Regions from separate parts of the Homo sapiens genome. Here region 1 is linked to region 2. The links come from fine-mapping of genetic effects on gene expression. Tissue or cell type: whole blood. Region 2 holds a variant in brackets; the other region holds the start of a gene. All regions are shown on one strand. Distances are from middle to middle.

Region 1 (8,336 bases), 130 kb after region 2:
CATGCAAAGCTTTCTCTCTCTGCTTGCACGCACTGCGGACGGGCCATGTGAGGACGCAGCGAGAAGGCAGCTGTCTGCAAGCCAGGAAGGAAGCTCTTACTAGAAATGGAATTTGTTGGCACCATGATTTTGGACTTCCAACCTCCAGAACAGGGAGAATATAAATGTCTGTTATTTAAGTCACCCCGTCTTTGGTATTTTGCTATGGCAAGCAGAGCTGCCAGGCTACGATGTGACTGTTGTAGTCCAAGCAGTGTACACAGTGCACAGCATGTACAACTACGGCCCCTAAGATCTCTCACATACACAATTTCAGCATGATGTTCATAACGCCCCTAAGGGCAAGCACTGTAATGTAGGAGAATAAGTTAGATAAAACCCATCACTTCTTAGCTGCAGGGTCTTGAGCAAAGTCCTCAATTCCTCCAAGCCTCAGTTTCCTCCTATTATAAATGTTTGTTAAGCTGGTTAAACCTAGTCTCTGCAGCAAATTTAATAAGATTTAGTACTGTTAAGCATTTTTCATCCACCATGAAGAAACTCACTGCAATAGGTGTTTGCATGTGTATGATCATTTCTAAGTGTTCAAAAGGAGTATTGTGTTGGTTTCTTTAATTAAAGAGTAAAATCCTATTTTTAAATGTCTGTTATCATTGTGGTGAGAATTTTTCTGCCTCCATGCCTGCAGATTTCACTGCCTTAACCTTCTGGTGGATTGATCAGTGAGTCACTCACTGGTGACACCTCTAAGCCTGTCACTAGGCATGAGGCTAAAGCTGACCTCTAGATAGTGTAGGCTTCCTGGAAATCTCTTTGGGTCATCCTAAGTCTGTTTTTGTCAATAGTTCCAGAAAAGCAGACACAGAGTTCATGGATCATATTCATTAATATCAAGAATAGAATTCACAAAAATAACAGTCAATAAGAATTCATGAGGCATCAACCTGTTAACAGTAATAATAATGATAATCATAATAGCTCAAATAGATGGAGATTAACTTTGGGAAGCCACTGACTAAATGCATTATCTCAGTAACCCTTTAGGTTAGATACCATTGTCCTCACTATACAGGGAGGAAACTGAGGGACAGAAAGGCTAAATAACTTACCCAAGGGCCAATGACAGGAAGTGGAAGAGTAGGTTTGAAATGCTCCATGGGACTTGACTGCTGTGCTATGCTCTCTCCACTGCAGGATCTCTAATGCCTGTCATCTGCGCCATGGGCTTTAGTTCAAGTGAGTCTTCCTCCTACCTTCCGTGGTAAGTAACACCACCAAAGAGATCTGATGTTGGGGAGGTTCCCACGTACTTCTAGGTGATACAAAATAGTTATTTCCATTCCCGGAAATCCTCCTGCAAGGATTTCTGAAACCATTCTATTGTATAAAATCTGTATGTTCCCAATTTAAAAATATACAAAACACCCTTCCAAGTCATTTGAATTAACACTAGTATTAAGGAAGCTAAGTCTGCATAACCAGCCCCCTGGAAAGACAGAATGCCATCTCCTCAAGTCTAAGTGCTGTGTAATCATTACTCTACAAACCAAGTGGAGATATTACCTATTCTGCAAACAGCAAACCAAGCAAAATTCCTAGGTGCTCCCAAGGGAACAAATCATGCAGAGAAACTGCTCTCTGCTTCTCTCGAAAGCCCTCGCTGTTCCCAGGGGCCCTAAAACTCATTATCCCCCTGCGGGTGAACAGCAGACTCCAGTAGTTGTATACTTCTAGAAAGTGGAAGCAGTACATCTAAATGTTTTCAAAGTTTGCTCATGACAAGGAAGGGAAGGATGGGGACTCAAGGGCTGGGTAAGTAAAGAGTGTTATGGACCAAGAGGGTCAGCAAAGAGGGGGCGGTAGAAAATGTAAGGAGAGAGAAAATTGATAGAAACAGGTCCAGGAGCAAGTGAAAGATTTGCTCCAGTGGAATTAACATGAATATACATGGGGATGGGGGGGCAGCACTTGAATTTTAGAAACAAAAATGAAGATGAGTAGAAATGCAATTTTTTAGGTAGAAAGATATTTCTGTCCACTGGCCTCTATTTTCTCAGAAAAGGTGTGAGCGGGTTGAGGTTTGGATGAAGAAGGCTTGAGGAGGATGGAAAATGTTTAGAATCAAAAGTCAATTAGAAAGGGCTAAAAGGATTTCCAAGTAGAAGTGACTGTGGCATTAAGCTAAAATGGCATAGTTTATAGTGGACTGCTTCCAGAGCAGAGGACACGGGGTTTAGTCCATTGCCACTGAGTTGGGTCAAGCCCTTAGACAGCTGTCTTCTGACCTGACTTTCAAACTGAAACCTACCCTTCTGTGATTTATCCAGGCTTCTGTGATTTACCTACCCTCTGCTTGCAAGACAATCCAAGGTCCTCAGCATGACACACAGGCCTTTCCCTAACTGGCCCCCATTTGTGTCTCCAGCATCAGTTTTTGCCTTCTGCCATATTGAACTTAACTGTAGTTCCTCTAGAGCCTCAGTCCCTTTCAGTGCTGCTGGGCCTTAACCAAAGTATTCTCCTGAAATATTTTTCCCTTTAATGTCTGGAAAATAACATGTATTTTTTTTTTAAAGGCTGCCTCCTCTGAGAAGCCTTCCAGGGTCACCTTAGGTAAAACTGATTGTCAGTCTCTCTTTTTGCCAGCCTTACCTATGCCCTGTATGTGCTACTGACATCACAAGTCACTTCATATTTCATCTATTTTAAAATGCACTTTTATTCACATTTTTTAAAAATCCCTGAAATCAGCCAGATGTGGTGGTACAGGTTTGTAGTTGCAGCTACTGAGGAGGCTGAGGCAGGAGGATCACTTGAGCCCAGGGCTCGAGGCTGTAGTGTTATGATCGCACCTGTGAATGGCTACCACACTGCAGCCTTGGCAACACAGGCAGACCTTGTCTCAAAAAAAAAAAAAAAAAAATCCCTTAAATTAGCATGTAACTTATAATCAATGGTGTATCATAGTTCAATGACAGGATTAAAAAAAATTTTGGTGATACCAAAAAAAAGTACATCTTACATTGGAGAGCATTTGGTGAAATGCAGCTTCATTTTCTAACTTTCTAAAGTGAGTGTAGGAGTGCTTCTCATCTTGCCTCCCACCCCACCGCCCCCGCCACCTTTGGCAGTGTCTGGAGACATTTTTGGCTGTATCAACTTGCGGCGAGGAATATGCTGCTGGCATCTAACAGGTAGAGGCGAGAGATGCTGCTAAACATCCTCTAATACACAGGACAACCCCCGACAACAAAGAATTAGCCAGGTCAAAATGTGAATAGTACAGAGATTGAGAAACCCCTACGTAGAGAAACAATACCTATTTGGGTATATAATAGGCTTTATTATGTTTGATTTTAAATAAATCTTTTACAGTGTATAGTGCAACTTAATGTATAGCAACTTTTTCCAAACCTTGGCTTGTACAGAATAGCAACTCTTGAGACATATTCTAAGCTCTCCTCATCACCCCTCCCCAACTCCTTCTGCTAGATGCCCCAGGGAAATAAAATACAGCAATGCTCCTGGTCAAAATCTGAAAGCCAGAATGTCTCAGAGAGATTCGTGACCTTAAACCAATTAGGTTAGTTAATGGCAAGTCCAGGACTGAAACCCAGACCCCCAGATTTCCGCAATCTCACTCAGCCTGGGAGACAGCTGCTCCCTTCCCGGGCTAAATTGGCTAACACAGTTTGGTACCTTAAGAGGAAATGTGCCCTACCTATATGAGCTGGGTGACTTAGCAAGAGTTTAGCATTTAGTATTCACGCTTTAACACCCGGGACCCACCCAGCTCTCACCCCACTTTATGAGAATGTAGGTTGACTCTGTAAGACCCCTTAGCTCTGTGGGGAATTGGATTTATGCAAAAAATAATAGTGATTCATGAATGTGAAGGAACTTTAAATAAATGTAGATGATTTCATCATACAAAAGGCAGAAGGGACTTAGTAAGTGTATTTAAGGCTCTGGAGGAAGCGTTATTAATTTGGAAAGTGGGTGGGGGGAGCTGTCCTCTATCCCTACAAGCTGCACGTGTGGAAAGGGCCTTTCTAGCGCAGGAAGCTGATTTATGTGAGAGAGGAAGGAGTTCCAGGGGGAGGTTTTGGCAAGGCAGTCCCCACATCTCGGTTGTGCCAGCCAGGCGGGCCTCAGGTGGGTCTGGGGCTCCCTGCCCCTCCTGCTGAGTCCCCAGAGTGTCCCCCGCCCCCTTCCTTCTCCCACTGGGGCTGAATCACAGTGGGCAGCAGTGTTTGGGATCCTGCGATCCACCCATCGCCATCCCAGCAGCCCCACCCTTGGAGGATGGGAGGTTACCCTGCACGCCAGAGGGGATGGCGGGGGCCAGACTCACCTTCAGGTGAATGGGAAAGGACCGCTCCTGCTGGAGGGGCCCCAGCAGCGTCTGCTCCACGCTGACCAGCTCCGAAGTCGAGTCCACCACGCGGGCCAGCGCGCTGCGCATCGCCATCTGGGCCAGGGTGCAGGGCCCGCGGTCCCGGGGGAAGGGCAGCAACTCGGCGCCCCCCTCAGCGCCTCGCACTACCTCCTCCTCTGGGGAGTTCGCCCGCGCCGCGGTCCGCCGACTCCTGGTCCCCACGCCCCCGCCCCGCTCCTCGCGCCCGGGCCCCGGCCGGGCCCGCGGCGGGCCTGAGCGACGGGCTGGAGCGGTGGACACGTGGTCTGGGTCCCGCGGGTTCCCGGGGGCGACTGGACCGTCCCCCCAGCCCCACTCCTGCTGCAGCAGCTGCAAGGTCTGCAGAGCCACCATTTGGTGGCTGATGGAGGCCACTAAGGGCGCAGGGCTGGCCATCGCCTCCGCTGGCGGCCCGGCGCGCTCCGCGTGCAGGTGGAGCAGCAGCGAGGGAGGCGGGGGCGTTGGGGTCGCCAAGGTCACATTTTCTAACCCGCGGCTCCTCGGCCTCTGGGTCTCACAGCGTGTGTGGTCGGCCCCGCCCCCGGCTCTGAATCGGTGACCCGTGCTGGCCTCTGCCTTCGCCTGAAGTCCGAATCAGGCGTGTTCTGACCCAAAGCTGCCTGAAGCGCTGCTCGGTGTGCACTTGAAAATCAGCGAAATGCTGAGCGTTGCTTCTTCCCTCTCTCCAGGGCTTTGATGAGAAAACGTGCTGCTTTGTGCGGGCGCATCCATCGGCGGGGATACCCCGCCCCCACCTCCTTCGAAGGATGCCTGCCAATGACCACTGAGGTCTGGGAGGTGGGGGTGCAAAAGACCCACTCTAGGGCAAAAGTACGAAGGGCTCTAGAAAAACTTGCAAAAGGAAGACTGTGCCTTTCCCAACCCGAGGGGAATTTTCAGAAACTTGTTGAAGCAGCCTTCAAGGCCTTGCATCCCCCAAACAAAAGAAGGAGGAGTTGTGTATCTGGAAGTTCTGCTCTTCTCTGCTTTGCTGGGTGCCACTTGAGCACCGAGAGCCTGGTGGCTGAACTAGCATCAGCAAGCCTCAAGGCCCAGGCCTGGCACTGCCCAGAAAAGCCTAAATGTTTTTTTGTGACACTCCCAAAAGACTTAGGCAGCAAGGTTGAAGTTAATCCTTTTATGAGCCATGAACTTAGGGACAGCTGTACAAATAGTTGCTGTTTTTAATTAAACCCAACATGGCTACTTCCTTAACTTAGAAAAAAGCGACTAGCAATGTTATGCTTTGATAGATTGGAAACCATGGGTGTGTGATCACACTTAAGAAAATAGAAGATATTTGAGAGGAGTGGTATGGAAAACCAGTCCGGAGCAGCATTGTTCCTGCTTGCTTTCTGCAAGGAAAACCACTAGACAACCCAACAGCCCAGTAAAGCCAGGGCAATGGTGCATGCCCACGACAGACAGGTGGGCCCTGGCAGACCTGAGGATGGAATTGCATTACTCCTTTGGGAGCCAGACTGCACCCTTGGTGCTGTGCAGATCTGGAGAGGCTTTTGAGTGAAAAGGCCACACTGGTTAGTCTGTGAGCACAAAAGGATCATCAGAAGAGATATGGAGAGGGATGTTGGGTCCTTTAAGGTTTCCTTAACCCTGGGATAGTATGACCCCATATAATCCTCCCAACTTGCCAGCAAAGGTTCCTTCTCCTTCCCAGTGCTTTCTTCGCCTATGAAAACGAATCTGAATGCCAAGGTAAAGAAAACCTTTCTTAAACAAAAACGAGTATGTTCACACTAATTATAACTAAGTAAAAATGCACGTCTGTGCATTGACAGAGAGGAAATTACTTTGGAGGGAAGTAAATAGTTTAATGTTGATTAGATTTTTTTGCCATGAAGTTACTTAAGTTCATAATAAAAAATAGAAAGAAAAAAATTTTCTTTTTAAAAAAAGTCTTCAAATGTTGAAATATATTAGGTTCAGCAGAGACTAACCAGCAATAGCAAAAATGAACCCCTAATTTTCACAGAGCATGTCAGATCTCTAGGGCTGCCTCTCTTTCCAGATACACAGGAAATTCAGTTTCATGGGCTAACCCTTCCACTATCAAATGGCTGACTGCAAAACTTTCTTGACAGTTGGAATTGCAGCCAAGAGCAGAATTGAAATCACTAGACACAGGCTGACCTGAGGCCCCACTCTTCTACATACCACACTGAGTCAGAGCCATGAGACCAACTGAACCTCAGGGGGCATGACAGAAGGGTGCCAGAAAACCTTGGGGCCTGAGGGATGGCACATGCTGCTTAAATTGCTGCCTGCTTTTTCTAGTATTCTTAGGAAGCCCTGGATCATCTGGCAACTGAGTGTTTTGTCTGTTTTGGCTGTGGGTCGCACTGTGTTTTGCTATGATCTCAAAATGGCTTGTGTTCCAAAGCTAGAGATATGAGAGCCTAACTCAGGAAAAATTTTCATAGTCTATTTAGATGAGTCAATAGCATAGCAGATCTACCTTTGGTCTAAAACACCTCCGTAGTTACGTTTGCTGGGCTACCAGACGAAGTAACAGATAGCCTACTTCTTACCCACTGTACTCACGATTTGAGGCCATTCTGTAATAAAGGGCACATTCAAAAGGACAAAGTATTAGATATCTGATATGTTTGTTTCACAACATATATTTCACTATTTTATAGAAATCATACCCTCATTTCTCAGTAGATATGCCTTTTCCTCCACACTCTGCCCGTGAAGTCAGATGGGATGAGCCCATCTCACTGCAGAAGAGTACTGGATCATCTAGCCTAAGTCCCATCACACATCACATCCCCACAGTGCATGCATGGTCAGGAATGGGCACATGACCCAGCTAGAGCCAATGAGACAGTATCTTTTAGGATGCTTTCAGCTGAATGCACTGTAAAAGAGAAAACAACAGATGCAAAGAGTACAGGCCAAAAAAGAAGTGTAGGCCAAGAGATGAAACAGCAAAAGATCAAATTCCCTTTAAACCAGAAAACTCAACATAACATAGTTTAATCAATAAGAATAATTTATTGTCTCACATCACAAGAAGTCCAAAGGCAGAGTGGCTCCAGAGTTGGTTAATATAGCAGCTCCTCAGTGTCATCAAAGCCCTTTGTTCCTTCCTTCTTTCTGCCATGCCATTCCCAGCACATCAGCTTTGTCCTTAATTTTTGGGCTAGTTCTCCTATGGCTACTAGCAGCTGCTGGCATCATGTCTAGACAACAATAACTAGAAGAAAAGGCCATCTTTTCCTGTGTATTCCTTCTCAAGAGCAAGGAAACACTTCTCAAAAGCCTTCAGCTGGCTTCCTCTCACATCTCCTTGACCAGAATTGTGTCACATGTTCTTGCCTAATTAATCACAGTCAAGAGGAAAGAGGCTACCATGAGAGTCTAAGGTGAACTAGAATTCAGTGTAGGAGTTGGGGCTGAGCCTAGCCTCTCTCAAAGCAATTGGTGGAGGGAGGATGAAAACTACTTGATATGAAGCAAGGTTTTGTTACCAAGCATCAGCAATGGCAACAGAGAACAATGAGGATTTTGCAGGGGTTTCCAGGTAAAGAATATATCAGATTTCCAGGGCTGCTTCTCTTTATCAATACACAGCAAGTCCAGTTTCATGAGGCTGATCTTTCTACTGTCAAATATCTGACTTCAGTGACCCCTGTGCAAGTAAAGCTGAGAAGATACAAGTTCTGGAGCCTCTGCAGCCATCTTGTGAGTTTGATGGGGACAGCCCGCCTATGAATGAGCCAGCACTCATGGAGAGAAGACGTTCATGAAACAAAAGCCAACAGATGTATAGAGAGAAACCGTGGCTGTATAGCAGCATTTGAGGTCCACATTTAGCAGCACAGGAAGTCAGCCCCACCTCTGAGCTTTTCAGTTATACGAGCCGATGAAGTCTCTTTTTGCTTAAGCCTCTTTG
Region 2 (8,336 bases):
TGCAATTTAAACCATATACATTGTTTATTTCTGGCACTTTCCACTTAATATTTTCAGACTATGGTTGATCACAGGTAGCTCAAACTGCAGAAAGTGAAACTGTGGATAAGGGGGTACTAGTTTTACCATTTGGGAATGTGGCCCATTGCTTTCAGAGAATCAGCAATTTCGTTAGTTGAAAATACAAATTTCTGTGGGTAGTTTTCTAATTTTCAAATGTTAGTAGCTAATTTACAATTATCTAAAATACTATGTGGGCTAATTTGTGAGCTTTGCCTTAATGTTTGTAAGACTAATTGTCACTGGAAATGGAATTCTGCCTGCCTGTGACCCCTGAGTGATAGAAATAGAAGCCATAAGTGGCAGTTACAGAGAAATAGGCCTTGGTCCAAAATAAGAACACATTTTCTAATAATATTATTCAAAGGCAGAGTGTTCTTCTCTAGGGCATGAGTTGCTCATTTCTATAGATGTTCAAGTATCAATTGGTTGGCATCTTTGCCAGAACTGTGTAAAGGAAGACCAGGCATCAGATAGATGGGATGTTAGACTTCACATCTCCCTTTCAAACCTGAGCTCCTTTGAATCAAAAGCACTACTTTTTCACAAAGGTTTCAATTCAAGCTGGACTGGGCATTCAGAATGAGCCTTTTGGTTTTACTTTCTGTGTCATACGTAGAACACATGTGTGTCTCTTCTGGTCTGTAAATATAGGATGGGACTGAGATGCCTTTTTCAAGGGAAAATGTTTCAAAGGCTGATTATTACTATTTTAGACTTTCTATCTCTTGGGTTTGCCTTGCCCTGAGTTGGCCTGTGTTTCTTCAAATCCACTCAGCAAGGTTCAACTTGGTTTGGCTGTGTCTCTGCTGGTATTATTTTCTATGGAAATAAATGCACACAGACTCTGATAATTTATATACATTCAGATGTAACCATAAGGAGAAACCAACACTTTACTATATATTTTTAAATTTCCATAAATCTGGGATCTGGAAATGAACAATTTTTCTTCTGAACACACAAAATTGGCAAAAATACCAAATTTGCCAATATTGGTATTTTCTGTACCCTCAAAAATATTGAGTATATCAATATAACAATGAAAATGTGAACATTTAAGCAAAAACAATTTGGCCAATTAAACCAGATATACCAATTAATTCAATGACAAAAATAAGTCAAAGAACTCAGCTTTGGCACATGGAGGCATTCAAGACACCAGCATCTGTTTTATTTTTGACAGCAGCGTCTGGTCCTTATATATTCATCTAACACTTTCAGTAGATCTTGACTTCGGTATGAAACTTGCTCACATTTTCAGATCTACAAAGGACAGATTTTAACCATTATTCTGAAAATGCTTTCCTTTCCATAAGAAAATGAAGAAAAAAGCCTGCTTTATATTAAAATGCTTATTTTAGCCATGAAGATAAGCCCTAGCCATTCTCAGATGCTGAAATACTTTGGTTTGGAAGATCTTTACTGCATGGTTCTTGGCCTGGAGCCTTATCACGCTAGAGAATCCAATCCACGTGAATGTTCTGTTTTTCAATCATTTGTTTGCAAAGTCTAATCTGGAAGGGGAATTAATATTATTAAGGACATTTTATGTGCAAGGGCTGTGCCAGGCATTTAACAAGTATTATCTTGTTTAACCCTCACAATGACCCAGTGGCGGGGGCGGGGGGCATTACTACCTATACCTACATGAGAAAGCAGGCTCTGGAGCATCAGAATCAAATCAGAGCCTGGGACTCAGGGCAGCCAGCTCCAAGGTCACACAGGATTTTTTTTTTTTTTTTCTGCGTAAGAAAAATATTGGGGAAAGGAGAAGAGAAATCCATTGTAAACTTAGGTAATCCAAAATTAAATTTCAGGGACCATTTATGAAACTATCTCTTTGAATCGTAATTCCAGTTACACATTAAATTTAACTGTAGGGAGACCTGAGTACAAACATTCATTGATTAGCCTTACAGTAAATTTGTGAGATCAAAACTTCCTAAATCCTATTGCAGATGGTACTAGCCACTGACTTTGACTTTCAGCTGTTAGACTGATCATTAGCAAACAACTTCTGGGCCAAGTGCCCACATCAGTTTTGAGGGAACTTTGGGATTTTTCTTTGCTTTGATTTGTAACAATCTATGTACGCCTTCTTTGGTAACCCTGATGAGAGCTCAAAGTAGGACTTTAAGCAGATATCCTAAGGCCAATATCCCAATTCTGCGTTTGTTTTTTTCCTTGAGGTTTAAACAGTATGTTGAATCAACATTCTATCAAGAGCTTTTTTAGTGCTTTTACCAAGAAGTTGTTAGTGAGAGCTGCATTCAGTTCAACTTTCTTTCTCGGTTCCTTTCCCTACCCTGGTTTAGTGTGTTGAAAAATCCTTTTGCATCAGCATTTATGCAGCATATAATTTTTTTACTCTCATCCAACAGGCACATTTGGATTTACTATTTCACTTGAACAGTTGGTGTTTACTGGCAGCAACAAGAACAAAATTTATAGCAGCAAATGGAAGCTGAACTCGCATGCTGGCTTTGCACTGAAGAACTTTGTGTTTGCCATTTCCTAATTGTGAAAACAATATGTCCAAGATTTTGCAGTCATCAGCATTCTGATGTAACGACTTCCATCTGGTCAAAGGAAGAAATTCAGAACCTCTATCTCCTTTTGAATTCTACTTCAGTGCAAAGGTAACTGGCTTAGGAGAATGTTGGAAGACAAGAAATTCAGACAATACATTCTGAAAAGCGACTATAACATCCACTTTTCCAGGGGATAATTTTCCTGAAGAGCAAACAGGGGTAGGGAATTTGTCACGATCTTCTTAATGGAAGCGGCTCTAATTGGAGCAAGATGACAGGATTACTTGGAGGTGAGAGAGGATAAAGAAAGCAGGATGATTTGTGGCGCGTTCCAATCGGAGGTAATAAGAAGTCAGAGATCCACAGAGACCATGCAATTGGAGACCAATACGAAGGCAATGGAGGCCAACAACGTGGTAATAAGAAGTGGTTTAACATCCCATCTCATCCCATCTGGCATTCAGAATTTGGCACTGGTTATTGAAATATGAAGCTCCTGATGGTCCTCACACTCCTACAGTGACCTTCTTCACTCATTAGCCAGGAGTTGAAGCTGAAAGAAATGTAGCATAATATCTCAAATGCTTGCTTTGCATTTTTTATATTCATTGATTCAACAATTATTTACTGAGCACTATATTGCATTTTAGGAATGGCATTAGGTACTGGAGATATGGGCTAACACACATTTCTTGGCTACCCATTATAGATAATTACATGAGAAACACAAAATATGCATAGAAGGACCCTAATTTCGAGTCAAACAACCCAGGAAGAAGACTTCTCTATAGCTATCTTTATACTTTATATTAATCTTTTTCTTTGTATTTTATGTTCATCTTCTTCTTCCTGAAATGAGAAGGGAAGGAAAATAGAATTCTAGAAATAACCTTACAGCTGCCCTTCACTCTATGGAAAAAGTGAGCTCTTGACAGGAAAGGGGTTCTATCCATGATCTTACAATTCCTAAACAGCAACAGCATCATGGACGTATTTGTTCCTGGCGTCATAAGCCTGCATACGGTAGGCATTCAGTTAATAGGTACTGATTGGTCTAACAGAGGAAGCTGGGCTTGATTATAAAATAAACTAGGCTATGAAATCATGCCTCCTAAAAGCTCATTAAAGGCAGCAACACGGGATGGGGACTGTAAGGAAGTTGTCTCCCACCTGCCTCCCTCCTCAGACACACATCATTCCGCAGATGTGAAAACGACCCAGACTCTGCCCGCATGTGGCCTCCCGGACCGGGCAGTAGGGCCTTGCCCCTACCCTCATGAAGACTGTCGGCTGTGTTACAGAACTGCTGCTCTGTCTCTGACTCCCCTCACTCCCATGCTCTGTTGGAAACTCAAGTTGTGAAACCACAAAACACAGAAAGGAAGTGGTCAACTATTGCACATACTCAAGCTATGTAGTCTCAGTTTATTCCATTCTTGCAGGATCATTGTAGGAAGGCATAAGAGTCCTGCTTACTGGTGAGCCACTGAACACAAACT[C/T]CCTTCTCACCTCTGCCTTGGATCCCGCCATGCCTGAGGTCTAGGGCTAGAAGCGTTGTTTCATCCACATTAATTCCGGTCTTGGGCAACGTGGCTATTTTCTGACCTGTCTGTCTTCCCACCCTAGTGGTGAATTCTCTTTCTGGGATCTCAACTCCTTCTCCTGTCACCCAGCTTTTTCCGAGCAACCCCAGTCCATCTGGCATATCATTAGAATGTTAAACCTAAAACGGTAAGCCATTCTGTGAATACCTTTAAGTAACAGGATATTAAAATGAGACTTTTCCTGTTTTCTCAGTGCTAGCTGACATCTTTGAGCTGAGAAAAAAAAATATTGTTAAAAATGCTCATCTATTCTCAGGAGATGTCATCTGCTAAGGAGTGACCAAAAAAATGGTCCAATAACCCTGAAACCATCGCTCAAATCTTAGCTACGCAAGGGGAGACTTGTAAATTAATGAGGACGGCAAGGATTTCATGAGACAGAGCTTTCAGGCTGCTAAAATGCTTCCTCCTCCCTTCTCATGTGTTTTCCCCTCATCTTACGCAAATAAGAGGGGGCCTTCAGAGAATTACTTGGAGAGCTGACCTAGGACCCCTAGGCTTTGGGGAACATAGAATGTATTAGTGTCTATTGCTGCTGAAACAAATTAGCACACATTTAACAGCTTAAAAATAGCAAAATTACTACCTCACAGTTCTGTAGGTTAGAAGTCCAGTGGGCGCGGCTGGTGTGTGGGCTTCAAGCCTCACAGGGCTGAAATCAAGGTGTTGGCCAGGCTGTACTCCCTCCTAGAGGCTCTAATGAAGCATCTGTTTCCAGGCCTCTGCGCCTTGTTGGCGGAATTCAGTTCAATTTGCCTGATGGACTGAGGTCCCTGCTTCCCTGCGGGCTGTCGGCGGGAACTGCCACTGGCTCCTTGCAGCCTCTCTCTGATTCTTGCACAAGGGCACCTACATCTCAGAGCCAGCGAGAGTGTGAGTGTGTGGAATCCTTCTCACGAGGCCTCATCTCTCTGACTTTCGTCGGGAAATGTTCTCTGCTTTTAAAGGATCATGTAATTATTTTGAGCCTACCCGATAATCCAGGATAATCCCCTCATCTAAAAATCTGTTACCTTAACCACATCTGCAAAGTCCCTGTTGCCGTGTAATGTAAGCTATTCACAGGTTCTGGGGATTAGGAAAAGGACATCTTTGGTGGGGGCCTTATTCAGCCTACCACATAGAGATTAGTACCTGAAAAGCCAGCAGGTGAGAAGCTAGACAGAGCAGCCGGTGGCAGCTAAAGGAGAAAGGGGGCGAGAGCTGGAGAAGTCGCACTTCCGCCGATGGCGCAGCAAAGGGGATGTTGCCCTGGAGGACTCAGGGAACGGAACTGGGCTATCAGCCGAGAATGGGGCTCCACTCAAAAGGAGGAACCAACAGGAGACACAAGGAACCCCAGCAGGAAGAAGTCGGAGATGGAGGAGGGGAAGTCATAGCTGGAGGAGACGTGTGTTAGGAAGCTACAATGGCAGCTCCCTAGTGGAGGTGTTTCGGAAAAACTCCGAAGATTCCACTTGAGAAAATCATCGGCCTTCAGACAACGTCTATGCCAGATAATGCTACCAAATCACAACCTTGCCTTTCCTCCCTACTGCTGTTCTGATGTGGGAGGACCCAAAGGCAGCAGAAGAGCCAAAGAAGAGTAGCAGAAAGGTAAGTTTGGCTGTCATGCCCTGGCACACCTTGCTGCTACCCTGCAGCTCCCTGCCACCTGGCCATGCACTGCTTCCCCTCCACACCCTGCTGAGGCAGGTCTGGGCTGGGGACACAGGAAGCTTTGATGTTAGACTGAACTGGACCTTCAAGATCTCAAAACACAAAGTATTTGTTAGTAACTGAAAGGTGGCATAAATGTTAGATCAACCTAGGATTTTATCACCAAATAAGGAAACAAGTTCACTGGGCAGTTCTAAGAAAGAATAGAATTGCTTCCTGCTTGGTCTTTTTTGTTTAATAGACCAGATTCACAAATGCCCCAACCCTTCTCTAGCAATGTGTAGGTTCTGATCACCAAGGGCTATCTCAAGAGAAGGGCCAAACATCTCCATTAACAGGAACTCAAGCCCTTGTTTCATTGAAATGTTTGGTTACAGCTTAATGACCACAGTTGCAAAGCCAGAATATTGAGTTTTTATATGCTATATTATTTACATGGAATAATGCCCTCTTGGTACCATATTGAACATAGTAAATTCTCTGTTAATTGACACTATACAGAAAGAGTACTTTGACTGATCGAGGAAGGCTAATGTTTTTTGATCTCTAATCCTTGGGCTACCTTTTCCGTGATGTCACGGAAAGAGCATTAGACTAGTTATTGTTCTAGAACTGGGACTCTCACTAACTATATACACGTGGGCAGATCATTTTACATTTTTGAGCATTGGTTTCTTCATGTGTAAGGTGGTAACAACAATGTCTCCCCTGCCTTGTTCATAGGATTGTAGGGAGAATCAAATGACATAATGGTCATGAAAATATATTTCTAAGTTGTAATCTGTATATGTAATAAGGTGTTACTAGTAATTGAACATTTATATATATTCTGTAACAGGTTGTAAACTTTTAAAAGAGATCTAGTACACCAGGCTTAATGGACTATTTTTTGAAAGACACATCAAAAACTGTTGACAATAATTGCCTCTAGGTAGAGACATGAGAGTGATGGGAAGGAGGCAGACTTATTTTTCACTCAATTTCCTTTTGTATCTCTTGAATTAATACTATATATACACATGACGCATTTAATTTAAACCAATACAATTCAATAACTATTTGAGAAGTTAAAGAAAAAAGATATATTTATTCTGAATAATAAATTGAAAATAATCTAATCTTTCTGTAAAATGGCTTTTTAGGATCTTTAATACTTTAGCTTTAAGTGAGATGATTTAGTTGATGCAACCAGCACAGAACTTGGCACACAGTGGGTATTCAAAAAGTGGTAGAGCCCTTTGCCTTGAGGCCATCATATGACTATCCACTCCCAGTGAATTTGCTATATACAAGGATATAGTTAATGGGATGCTGGATATTAGAAAGTTTATTGGATTTTACCAGGATGCTGGACACAGATGGTAAGTGGAAAATGCCAGAAAGTTGATGAATCATCTGGTAAACTAGTGGAAAAGGTAAATGGAGCCAGAAAGAGGCCAGAGAGGGCAAGGAAACAGAACAGGTCTGGAGAAAGGCAACTACACTCATTGTATCATGTAACCCACTTTTCAGTTGCTGATGTTTCCAAAATGGTAAGTACATTTTGCAAACTGGAGTTATTCTGATCTTCATGCTATTAAATGCTTATTAATTAACAAATAGCGTGAAGTCTCATTAGCTAGGCTGTGGGTTTTTTTTTTTTTCAAATTTAGGATTTCTCTTCATTTTATGGTAAGGAGCAGGGAGTCCATAAATCAGAACACTTTATGAGAAGTTCTAACACCTAGCCCTAATGCCAAGACTGAGAATCTGATAGCATAGCTATTAAAAATTAAGACCCCTGAAAGACTTCCATTTCTGCTAACAGCAATGCCCAAGGCAGCCAGACACTATGTCTCCCTTTCTGTTTTAATGTAGTTGCATCAATTCTGCTATTCTGTTATAAAGCAAGCACCTAGAATGACATTTACAAAGCAGGCAAAATGAAAATGGAACAAAAACTCAAACTATCACATGCAGAAATCACCACCAATGCCAAGACATTATAGATAATATTGACATAGCTATGGGAAAATTTAAAATCTTGCTGCTCAAAGTGCTTCTTAAACAGCCTCATCAGCATCACATGGGAGCTTGTTTCCAATGCAGAATCTCAGGCCCTCCCCCAAGACCTACAGAATCAGAATATTTTGTTTTACAAGATCTGCAAGTGATTTCTATGAATATTGAAATTTAAGAAGCACTAATTTAAATGTATCAATGTGCTCCAGGTTAAAAAAAATGTTGCTGATGAAAAGACAACAATCGTTTTATCTCAGAAATGAGAAATGGTCAACTTTGGATTTTTCCTTGAGAATAAATAATTAATACATAAATTCAGCCCAAAACATAACATGGAAACATATTTCCAAAGAAAAGGCTTTGAGACAGTGGAACCATTTGGGTGCCATTTAAATTTAAAGAAGGAAATAGAAGAAAAAGAAGATCAAAGATGGAGACTCCAAGTCTTGGCAATTGATTGAACGTGAAGTCCTGTGAA

What was found.
Region 1: it holds the start of DLEU7, and the variant in region 2 is fine-mapped to the expression of DLEU7 in whole blood (TOPMed, PIP above 0.99).

What each region holds. Positions count from the first base shown.
Region 1 is chr13:50,838,834-50,847,169 of GRCh38, forward strand. DLEU7 (deleted in lymphocytic leukemia 7) reads right to left here and starts at 4,859. Exons shown (of 2, transcript NM_001306135.2): 1 at 4,355-4,859. The coding sequence starts at 4,813. DLEU7-AS1 (DLEU7 antisense RNA 1) reads left to right here. Exons shown (of 5, transcript NR_046551.1): 4 at 1,195-1,261. RefSeq lists an enhancer at 3,789-4,715.
Region 2 is chr13:50,710,094-50,718,429 of GRCh38, forward strand. It overlaps a transcript of DLEU7 not described here. Among named protein-coding and RNA genes, the nearest start is that of DLEU7-AS1, 94 kb to the right of the region's middle. The variant C/T (reference allele first, on the strand shown) is at 4,094.